2 separate regions of the Homo sapiens genome follow, and region 2 is linked to region 1. Evidence: fine-mapped expression QTL. A gene starts in region 1. The other region holds a variant in brackets. All regions are shown on one strand. Distances are between the middles of the regions. Region 1 holds the start of NSMF (NMDA receptor synaptonuclear signaling and neuronal migration factor). Region 2 overlaps EXD3 (exonuclease 3'-5' domain containing 3).

Region 1 (5,312 bases):
GAGAGTGGATAGGAGCAGGAGAACCTGCCACACCCCACACCCCACTGAGAGCTCATCAGCTGCAGCCCTGGGCCAGGTCCCCTGACTGTGTGTGTGTGGGGGGGGGGGCTGGGCACCAGCCATGGGAGGGGAAGAGCAGTCAGCCCTGGCCTCCCTGGCAGGCCTGGCACAGCATAGGCACGTGGGTCTGTTCAGAAGCAGCCCCCCTGGTAGGCCCAGAGACTGGGAAAAAGTGCTGTTTCCTGAGCAGCAGAAAGAGACCACCCAACCCTGACCCCAAGTCGTGGGCACAAGACTCACGCTTGCATAGTTGTGGTTGCTGTCTGGAAGCTGAAAAGATTTTCCTTGGGGAACCAGGTACGAATAGGGATGTCGTCTAAGAGAGACAAAAAGGAGCGGTGGCTGGGTGAAGTAGGGGTTCCTGAAGCCTCTCCCTCCCTGTTGGGAAGCAGATGCTTCTGGGTCCAGGGGTCAGCAGAAGCTGGCAGCCAGGGCGGGTGGGGGGAGGGTGGCATCCCCACACGGGCACAGAGGGCAGTGCTCGAATGTCTGCTGCTCACTCACCAAGACCACGCTCTTGGTAACTTGACGCTTTGATTTTTTTGGCTTAACTTTCCCTTTGGCCACCCAAAGTTTGAGAAACATTCCTTTGAAAGCACAGTCTGTCTCCAGGAGGCCCAGGAAAACAATGCGTCTGTTTCCCTTGGGCAGAAGAGGCTCTGAGGCCTTCTCTGCAGCCCCCATGCTCTAGCTGGAGGCCCTCACCGAGGCTAGAGACCACCTTGCTGAGGGCTGTCCCCTTCCGAGGGCCCCCACAGCCTTTCCCTGATGCCCAAGTGTGGGGACAGTGGAGTGACTTTCTGCCTGGTGGACAAGCTACCACACAACTCAACAACCCTGGGGAAAGATGCCCACTGCCTGGCTGGGCCCCAACAGCTCCCCAGGACTCTCGGAGGGCAGCCCAGTCTCCTGATTAAGCGGTGCTTCCTCCCTACATATCCCTTAAGATCCTCCCAGGCCCCCTCCTCCAGGAAGCACTCCTTGATTGACCTGGTGCTAGCAGGGCGAAAGCGGACTGTGAGGCCTGGCAGATTTTGCTGAGGAGCTGAGGGAGCTCACAGCTCATAGGGTGTGGAGGCCGCAGCAGAAGCCTGCCGGTTTTAATCTTGAGTCCGCTGGCATGCTGTGACCTGAGCACCTGTTCTCTGTTCCAAGCCTCACAGTGGCTGCTGCTGTCAGACCCTGGCAGCGGCATGCACCCCCAAACCTGTCTATGCCCTGACACAAACCCCTCACCAGACACACGGTCAACGCTGTACATCCTCTCCAGCTTCTTGCGGCGACCGGAGGTCTCAGGCAGAGGTGGCTGGTCCAGCCCAAAGGCCCGAGGGGTGGGGCCAGGAGCCAGCTGGGCACATCCGGGGCACTCCTTGGAGCCCTGGCGGCTGCCCGCCCAGCTCTGGCAGGGCCTGCTGACGTCCTCCCGGCTGCCACCAGGGCTGGCGCGCAGGGGCTGGCTGTGATGGTGAGGGTGCCGCTGCCGCCGCCCCTTCACCACCGCCAGCTCAATGGCCTCCGCCTCAGGGCTGGGCAGCAGGGCAGGCTCCCCAGAGATGGTGTACACTCGAGGCTGAGGGCCCTCGCCTGCGGGCTTCCTAATGCTGGGCTCCTCTGAGAGGCTGCCCTCGTAGCAGCCGTTGGAGACGAGGGACAGGCGGCGCTTGTTCTGGGGGGCCGGCTGCATCTCGGGGGACCCGTCGTGGCCAGAGTAGGCATCAGCCAGCAGGTGATCTAGGAGAGACACTGAGTGAGCCTGCCTGCCGCGTGTGGGCCCCCCGCTGCCGGTTTCATAGCAGGCCGAAGGCAGAGAACACCCAGTGGGCACCTGGCCTCTGTGGGGGACTAGGGCTGCCCAAACCCTAGTCACTGGCGTGTTTCTGAGCCCCTCACTCCTATCTGGGCCTGAAGCTCTAGCATGTGCGTGGGGGCTGGGTGACGCTGTGCTACCTGTGTGCGGTCCTGCCGGGTAGGAACACGCAGGCCATCCCCCAGCCTGCGATCGCACCGTTTGCCTGGTGCCAACTTCCCCCTCCCCCCACCAGCTGGCCCCCAGAGGCAGTGGTGCCAGCCCTGGGGGAGCCAGGAGGCCTGTTGCCATGCCAACGGCCCAGGCGGGGTGGGTGCCATGGTGACGAGCGGCTGGGAACTGCTCCTGGGGCTCGGGCAGGGAGGGCAGGGGATGTAAGGAAGCCAGGCCGGCAGGGCGCCGGGCCCACGCGCAACCAATGCCCCTCACGCTCCACCCCCGGAGGCAGGGATCAGCATCCCTTGGGCTGGGGGGTCTGGGCGGCCCTGGCACGGCCTCGCGTGCCCCTACCTGCGCCGTTGCGGTTCTCAGGGTGACTCTGGGACAGGTACTCTCCAAACGCTCGGGCTGCTCTGAGGGTGGACAGAGGGCACGGTCAGAGGCCACGGCACGACCCTCCCAAACACCGGGCCGCGCAAGAGCCGGGGGTCCGGTCCCCAGCCAGGCCCTCGGCGTCTGGAAGGAGGGTCGGGGTCGTCCCCCTCCGGGAGCCCACACACCCTTGGTCCTGGTGCGCCCTGGCCAGGCCTGCAGGCCCGGCCCCTGCCCGTCGGACCGTGGAGAGGGGTCGCGAGGCCGGTCGGCTGCTGTTCCCCGGGGGAACCGAGGCCACTCCCGACCTGGGGGGTGCGCTCGCCCACCACGCGCTCGCGAGGGGAGGGGAGGGAAGAGCAGGGCAGGGGACCAGGAAGAGGGAGGCGCGGGGCGCGGGGAGGGCGCCTCAGTGGCAGAGGCCGGGGCCCGGGAGCCCGGGGAGCACCGCGGGGCAGGGGCGGACTCGGGCGGGGTCGGAGGTCCAGGGCGGGGTGCGGGAAGGCGGCCCCGCCGCACTCACCGCACTTTGGCCGCCACCGAGGACATGGCCTCGCTCCTCAGCGCCCTCCTCCTGGAGGCGGCGGCGCCCATGGTCGAGGCGGCGGCGCATCCCCCGGGCCTCAGAGCGCGCCCCGCGCCCGCCGCCTCCGCCGGGGTAGCCGCGCCGCACCGGGGGTCGCGCTCGGGCTCGGGCTCGGGGTCTCGCTCGGGCTCCGGCTCGGGCTTGGGCTCGGGGTCGGGCTCGGGGTCGGGCCCGGTCCCCGCATGGCCGCACCCGGCGCTCCGCGCGTGCCGCCGCTCCCGGGAGAGCGCTGCCCGAACCGAGGGCCGGCCCCGCCCATCGTGACGTCAGGGCCCGGGCGGGCCCAGAGGGGCGGTCGGCCCCACCTACCGTGACGTCAGGGCCCCGGAGAGCTCGGAGAGGACATGTGGCCCCGCCCACCGTGACGTCCGGGCCCGGGTTGAGTTGGGGGCGGGGCCGGGCGGCCTGGCTCCGCGCCCTCTCGTCCAGGCCTCCAGAGCGGGGAAACTGAGGCCAGCGGCCCCCTGGTCGCAAAGTCCTGGGCCCTCGGCCCTCACGATCTGCTGCTCAGACCTGCAGGATCACAGGGAGGCCGGTTCTCCCTCCCCTTACACAAAAGGGCTCCCTGTGCAGTTTGGGAACTGGAAACCGAAGGGGAAGCCAGTTTAGGGGGCACCCAGTTTGCACGAGGCCAGAGAGAGACAGAGGGGCCCGTCCTGGTCCTGGGGGGCCACAGCTCTATGCAGACTCTGGACGCCCTACCTGCCTGGCCTGCATTTGCCGCCCTAGGGCTCTCAGGCCCCAGCAGTGGGGTCCTTTGAGGAGGACTGGGGACTGCCCAGCCTCAGGGACCACCCGCATCAGGGAGAACCAGTAGTGTTTCTTTGCCACAGGGACCTCGGCCCGGGAGACACGTCCAACAGTGAGATCCACCTTTATTGAAACATCACACGGCAGCATCAGGGCTCCCACACCTCACAGGGCAGCAGGCAGTTCACAGGACAGCAGGCAGTTCACAGGGCTTTGGGGGCCTCACAGGGCAGCAGGTGGTTCACAGGGCTTCGGGGGGCCTCACAGGGCTTCGGGGGGCCTCACAGGGCTGCAGGGGGTTCACAGAGCTTCAGGGGCCTCACAGAGCTTCAGGGGCCTCACAGGACTGCAGGGGGGCTCACAGGGCCCTGTATGCAGGGCTGCTGGTACAAAGAAGAGGCCCAGAGAACCCTAACACAGCCTGGGGCCCCGGGGAAGTCAGGGCTTCCAGCAGGGCAGGTACAGAGGCCCCTAGGACTTGGCAGGAGCCTCAGCCTTGGGGACAGTCCCACGGAAGACGCTGCATCCGGGCTCTTTAGCAGAGGCCTCTACCCGTCCTGGTCAGAGGAGCCCTCAGACAGTTTTGGGAAAGCCAGACTGGGGTGTCGATGCCGCAGTGAGGACTCGTCCTCCTGCAAGCAGACCGCATGTTCCAGGTGAGGACCAGGCAGGGCAGGGGCTCTGCAGCGCTGGTAACCCGGTGGGACCACAGGGAGGGAGTGGCCGGCACAGGGCCAGGCACCAAGGCTCAGCTGTGGGCACCAGGTGGGACCATGCCCAGCTCCTCACCAAGTCTGAGCCCTGCTGGGCTGAGGTGCTCTGGAAGTCTGCGTATGCATCCCTGGGGACGTCCAGCAGCTCCTCCTCGTACTCCGTCTGGTAGTCAGATTCGTCTGGCACCGAGGGTAGGGCTGCGTCAGTCCCCTCCCAAGGAAGGGACCGTACCCAGCATAGCCACACTCAGAGGCAGAACCGGCCACAGATGCCCACCCCCGCCTCCAAGGTGGCCCGGGGCCCTACACGCAGCCACCTGGTCCCAGGGCAGCCCTGCACACCACCCCTGGTTCTGTCTGGCTCCAGCTTTGCCCCAGCACATCACTTCGTGGGTCTTCCACAAGGACAAGGAGCGGGCAGACACTCCTCCCCTTGTCAGCCAAGCACCCTGAGGGCTCCAGCACCCCAGACCTGGCAACTGTGGATAGGGGCTGCCTTGCCCAGGGCCCTCTCGGCCTGCGGCAGCCATGAAGACGTCTCCCAGGAGAATGTCCAGTTCTGCTGTGAGGAGGCCACTGGCTGAAGGCCCAAGCGCAGGGCCCTGGATGGAGCATGGAGGGTAGTGGACCCGCCCTTCTTGTCCTGCGGCCCCTCCAACAAGCAGCCTTCATTCCCATTTCCCACTGGGTGGGGTGGGAGGCAAAACGTGGTTCTACTTCAGGCCTGAGGTGTGGCTGGGAGTTGAGGTGAATGAAGGGCAGGGGCTGGGTGACCCGGGGTGGTCACAGTCCCACTGCTGTGGGAACACGTGGTGCCCGGGACGGAGGAGTGCCACCAAGCACCCCAGCTGCTGGAGCCTGGGCG
Region 2 (5,401 bases), 64 kb before region 1:
CAGGCAGCGAGGCGGGGCCAGCACAGGGGCCAGGACACCTCCTGGGAAGAAGCTGACCCAGAGCCTGAGTAGGGGAGCCCACTGGGGAGGGCTGAGCTGGGGCCTCTTGTGGAGCTGGCCTTGTTGACAGAGCTGGACACGAACCATGTAAGGGCAGATGCCTAAAGCAGCACAGAAAGGATGGGGGGATGTGGCCATTCCAGGAAGCGCCAGGCTGTTCCAGGGGGTGCTGTGTCTGTTCTGGGGGGGCTGTGTCTGTTCCAGGAGCACCAGGCTGTTCCAGGGGGCACCGAGGCTGTTCCAGGGGGCACCGAGGCTGTTCCAGGGGGCATCGAGGCTGTTCTGTGGGGGGGCGCCGTGTCTGTTCCAGGGAGGGCCATTAGTGTTCCAGGGGGCACCGAGGCTGTTCCAGGGAGGACCATTAGTGTTCCAGCGGGCACCATGTCTGTTCTGGCGGGGGGCCGTATCTGTTCCAGGGAGGGCCATTAGTGTTCCAGGGGGTGCTGAGGCTGTTCCAGGGGGCACCGAGGCTGTTCTCGGTGGGGGTGCCGTGTCTGTTCCAGGGAGGGCCATTAGTGTTCCAGGGGGTGCTGAGGCTGTTCCAGGGGGCACCGAGGCTGTTCTCGGTGGGGGTGCCGTGTCTGTTCCAGGGAGGGCCATTAGTGTTCCAGGGGGCGCCGAGGCTGTTCCAGGGGCCCTGCTAGCTGGGGTGTTGCACTTTGAAAACATCCCACTCTGCTTAGGTGGAGAAGAGGCTGTAGAAGCCTGTGGGTGCCTGTGCAGGGAGAGTCAGCTCTGTGCTGAGGCGAACCCAGGGTCCCATGCGCTCCCCGGCCCTGACGGCGGTCTCCAGGGGAGGTAACAGGGCCTCATCCCACACAGGTGCAGGCCCGGGGCCCGCAGATGGCCTCAGAGGAGGCGGTGGATGAACGGAAGGGTGAGGGGGTCTGGGCCCATCCCCAGAGGGGCAGGTGTGTGGTCAGGGCCCCACAGGACAGCCAGGGTTGTGCCTGCTGAGGGGGCCACATCCACACCAAGCCCCGCCCAGCTCAGAGGTGGCCCCTCCCCGAGCACACGCTGACCTGGCTACATCAGGGAAGGCGACATGCCCGGAGGTGCCCCCACAGCCCTCAGCACCCACTGGGACACAGAAGAGGAAGGCAGAGAGGAAGCCCCTGGAGGGGTCCAAGGCCCGAGGAGGCAACTGCGTGGGATAGGGAAACTGAGGCAGAGAGCCTCAGCTGCTGCCATGTGGGAGCAGGGCTTTCACAGAGGGGAGGGCCATGGCCCTGCCCCATGGAGGGGCTGCCAGGCAGGGCATGTGTAGGGTGGAACTGGGCAAAGGCCAGGGGGCGGTGAGTGAAAAGGCAGTAAACCCACAACAAACTGAGGGCCTGCAGCCCAGGGCGAGGCGGCTGGGCCAGGGCCTTACAGCTCTCACTGCTGTTTACAAGGACTGCAGGGTGAAGGATGTGAAGGGGCCCCGGCACCCCCTTCTCACCCTCTGCCCACAAAGCCATGGCCCCGGACAGCTCCCACTGGGGCCGAGCCCCTGCCAGGAGGCTTCCCGCCCCAGCCCGTCCCCGGCACAGAGAGCAGCTGAGGCTCGGGCTGACCCCTCTGGCACTAGGCAGCTCCACTCCTTCCCAGCCGCCGCTTCCCTAACCCCAGCCTCCCAGCCTCCATTTCCCTAACCCTGGCCTCCCAGCCTCTGCTTCCCTAACCCCAGCCTCCCAGCCTCCGCTTCCCTAACCCCGGCCTCCCAGCCTCCGCTTCCCTAACCCCGGCCTCCCAGCCTCCGCTTCCCTAACCCCGGCCTCCCAGCCTCCGCTTCCCTAACCCCGGCCTCCCAGCCTCCGCTTCCCTAACCCCGGCCTCCCAGCCTCCGCTTCCCTAACCCCGGCCTCCCAGCCTCCGCTTCCCTAACCCCGGCCTCCCAGCCTCCGCTTCCCTAACCCCGGCCTCCCAGCCTCCGCTTCCCTAAGCCCGGCCTCCCAGCCTCCGCTTCCCTAACCCCGGCCTCCCAGCCTCCGCTTCCCTAACCCCGGCCTCCCAGCCTCCGCTTCCCTAACCCCGGCCTCCCAGCCTCCGCTTCCCTAATCCCGGCCTTCCAGCCTCCGCTTCCCTAACCCTGGCCCAGTCTTCAGCTTGCAGGGTCTCGATCTGTAGGAACAGGAGGGAGAGAGGCTGCACCTCCCCTCGGGCTGTTTATCCTCAGCACTGAATCTGGCAGGGCAGCCGAGCGAGCGGGGATGCGGCCTCCCCGGCTTTGCCCACAGGGAAGGTGCCTCTCATTTCTCTTTTTTAACCTGAAAAAGCTGCTGGGAGGGCAGATGTTCTTCTTAACTCGAAGGGATGAAAAATGCCTCAGTTTAAAAAACTAGGGACCCTGGAGGCCACCCTGGAACCGCCCGAGACCCAAGAGGCTGTGGGTTCCCTGAGCCCCCAGTGGCGGCGCTAAGCCCCCAAGGGTGTTCCGGGCCCTCCGCCTGGCTCCCCGAGGGACAGAGGGGACCAGAGCTCCCACCTCTGCGGCCAGCCCTGAGCAGCTGCACTGTCCCCGCCACCTCCCCCGGATCCTGTCACAGGCCCGGCGCCAGGCCACCCACGCTGGGGCCCAAGGAGGCGGCCTGTCCTGACCCCCGAGGACAACAAGGCCACAGTGGGGCCTCCGGACTCACAAGGTCCCAAGCCGTGGACACTGTAGAGAGGCCCGCAGCTAGGGGCCAGCAGCCTGGCCCTCGTCACTGAGTACACAGTGGGCGCCACCACCCCCCATGCAC[A/C]CCCACGCACCTCCCCCCACAGCCCCAGGGAGACTCGGCACCATCAGGCTCAGACTCACCCATGCGGTGGCGCTCGCCAGCGGCAGGGTCACCAGCGGGATCTCCTGGGTCCATCCTCAGGGCCGGGCCGAGGACGCTGGCAGGCAGCTAGGAACGAGGATCTGCAGAAACAGACAATCAGGTGAATGCAGAGCCCACTGCAACAGGCAGCCATGCAGAGCCCACGCCCACAGCCCCTGGAGGTGGTGGAGGGAGCTGGTGCCTGGGGGGGCCCAAGTGGGACCCCCAGTCGCTGAGCATAGCGGGCAGCTCCACACTCCTCTCCCAGCTGGGGTGACGGCTGCCAAGTTTGGACCCTGCATTCCAGTTCCCTGCCAAACCGTCCCAGCTTTCAGCAGGGAGGGCAGGGGGTGGGAGGGGCCCTGGGGGGGGGCACAGTAGACAGACCCTCGCGGGAGTGCAGAGGGGCCTGTTCTTGAGGACAGCGTGACCCCCCTTGCCATGTCCCCCTCAGGCTGTGTGTCCTGCCCTGAGGGAGCCACATGGGAGAGAGGTGCTCTCCTCCAGAGGGCAAGGGCGCCTGCAGGACCAGGGACCTCGGAGTGACGCCCTCACGGCTGACCCAGTACGCAGCTCCGTAAGACTCCAGGCGGCCGCTGACAGCTCTCATCCCAGGCAGACCTCAGTCTCCCTCAGAGTGTTTTTTTTTCTTTTCTTTCTTTCTTTCTTTTTTTTTTTTTTGGAGACAGAGTCTCTCTGCAATGCCCAGGCTGGAGTGCAGTGGGGCCATCTCAGCTCACTGCAACCTCCGCCTTCCGGGTTCAAGCGATTCTCCTGCCTCAGCCTCCCGAGTAGCTGGGATGACAGGCATGCGCCATCACGCCTGGCTAATTTTTGTATTTTTAGTGGAGATGGGGTTTCCCCATGTTGGTCAGGCTGGTATCGAACTCCTGACCTCAGGTGATCCACCCGCCTCAGCCTCCCAAAGTGCTGGGACTACAGGCGTGAGCCACCGCGCCTGGCCCCTGGGAGTGTTTTTGATGCAAAACCCTTATCTACACTTACGAGGGTCACCCTTCTCCTTCAGTCTGCTTACGCAAGGCTGCATAAAAAGGCTTTCTCTGAGTGCATAGCTTTAGTTTGAATCACACACAGCAGTTACACAAAGCTCAGCATGTGAACTCCGAATCCTAACACAGGCGTGCAGGAGAGAGCTGTGCCGCCCTCCCCCAGGCAGCCCTCACGGTGGCCATTCCCGGGGAGACGGACCTGTGTGTGTTTCTCAGCCACACGCGGCACAGTCACTTAGAGGCCTTCAGTTTTACACATTACTGACAGCTCCGCCCAGGCAGGGTAAGAATCTGTCTCACCTGTCGGCCAACACGCACCCCTAAACACACAACAACACAACCTCCTGAAAAAAGTTACGTGGACATCGTCTGTGGACTCAGGACGGACAGAGGCCGTTCCCAGCCGCGTCACATGGAGGTTAGGATGCCTTTTCCTTTCTCACGCAGGCTGCTCCAGACTCCTGCTCCACCGTCGGGGAGGGACTGTGGCTCTCCCACTGCAAACGACGTAAAACTGGATGATATATCTTAGGAAACCAGTTTCTGGGCAACAGGCAGTGTGAGGCCACGTTTCCCGACAGCAGTCAGTGCCCAAGGCAGCCCCAGGACAGCTGCTCCCCACGCTGGAGCCTGGGCTGGGCACAGTGTCCCACCATGCCGAGGGGGCCACTGGGGGACACACACCTGCAGGAGGGGCTGCTGGGGCAGTGAGTGTGTGGGCAGGAGGACCCCCGAGCCTCCCAGGACCCGCGGCCCCAGGGCTGAGAATACAGTGGAGACACCAGAGGCCACACAGCGCCTGACACACTGCAGTCCAGGCCAGCCAAGAGGAAGGACCCCATCAACACACAACCAGGACCAGACGGCCACAGCCGAAGACCATGCTGAGAGGAAGGCCTGCTCCAGAGCCTCTCGCCAGATCCAGACCAAGCCCACGAAAGCCGGAGGACAGATCCAGACCAAGCCCGTGAAAGCTGGAGAAGGTTGAGTCCCACCCAGCTTAGGAGGCTTGAGAAAGGCCCTAGGCTCTCCGAAGAGCCCCTGACAAAACATCAAGACACAACCCCAAGTTCAAGGGACTCAGCCAGAAGCTGAACAGCCCACCGGAGCGAAAAACAATGCTCTTCAGAGGATGATACCTAAATCCAGAGTTTCCACAATGGATAATTCACGAAACTCAGCACGTAATAAAAATCACAAGACCTAAAAAGAAACAAGGAAATATGACCCATAAACAAGTGGAAAAACACAAAAAACAGAGAACAGAAAGCAACTTCGAGGAAGGCCTCAAAGTTATTGGTGTTAGCAAAGACTTTAACACAACGATTTCAACTGCGTTCACAGAATGAACAGAAAACATGTTCAAACAGTTCAAGGAGGCCGAGTGCAGTGTGGGAGGCTGAGGCGGGAGGATCACTTGAGCCCAGGAGTTTGAGACCATCCTAGGCAACATGGTCAAACTGTACAAAAAAATTAAAAAGTAGCCGGGTGTGGTGGCTCACGCCTTTGGTTCCAGCTACTCAGCAAGCGGAGGCAGAAGAGTCGCTG

Evidence for each region. PIP is the estimated chance that this variant, and not a neighbour inherited with it, causes the effect. A credible set is the group of variants that fine-mapping cannot tell apart.
Region 2: its variant is the best candidate, but not a certain one, in a credible set for the expression of NSMF in whole blood (TOPMed, PIP 0.76).

What each region holds. Positions count from the first base shown.
Region 1 is chr9:137,456,111-137,461,422 of GRCh38, forward strand. NSMF (NMDA receptor synaptonuclear signaling and neuronal migration factor) reads right to left here and starts at 3,224. Exons shown (of 16, transcript NM_001130969.3): 1 at 2,922-3,224; 2 at 2,378-2,439; 3 at 1,297-1,791; 4 at 301-376. The coding sequence starts at 2,992. PNPLA7 (patatin like domain 7, lysophospholipase) reads right to left here. Exons shown (of 35, transcript NM_001098537.3): 34 at 4,524-4,627; 35 at 3,842-4,366. The coding sequence ends at 4,283. RefSeq lists enhancers at 1,408-2,105, 4,929-5,312 and silencers at 2,745-3,014, 3,105-3,454.
Region 2 is chr9:137,392,461-137,397,861 of GRCh38, forward strand. It overlaps EXD3 (exonuclease 3'-5' domain containing 3), which reads right to left. Exons shown (of 22, transcript NM_017820.5): 2 at 2,843-2,944. The coding sequence starts at 2,897. Among named protein-coding and RNA genes, the nearest start is that of EXD3, 28 kb to the right of the region's middle. The variant A/C (reference allele first, on the strand shown) is at 2,784.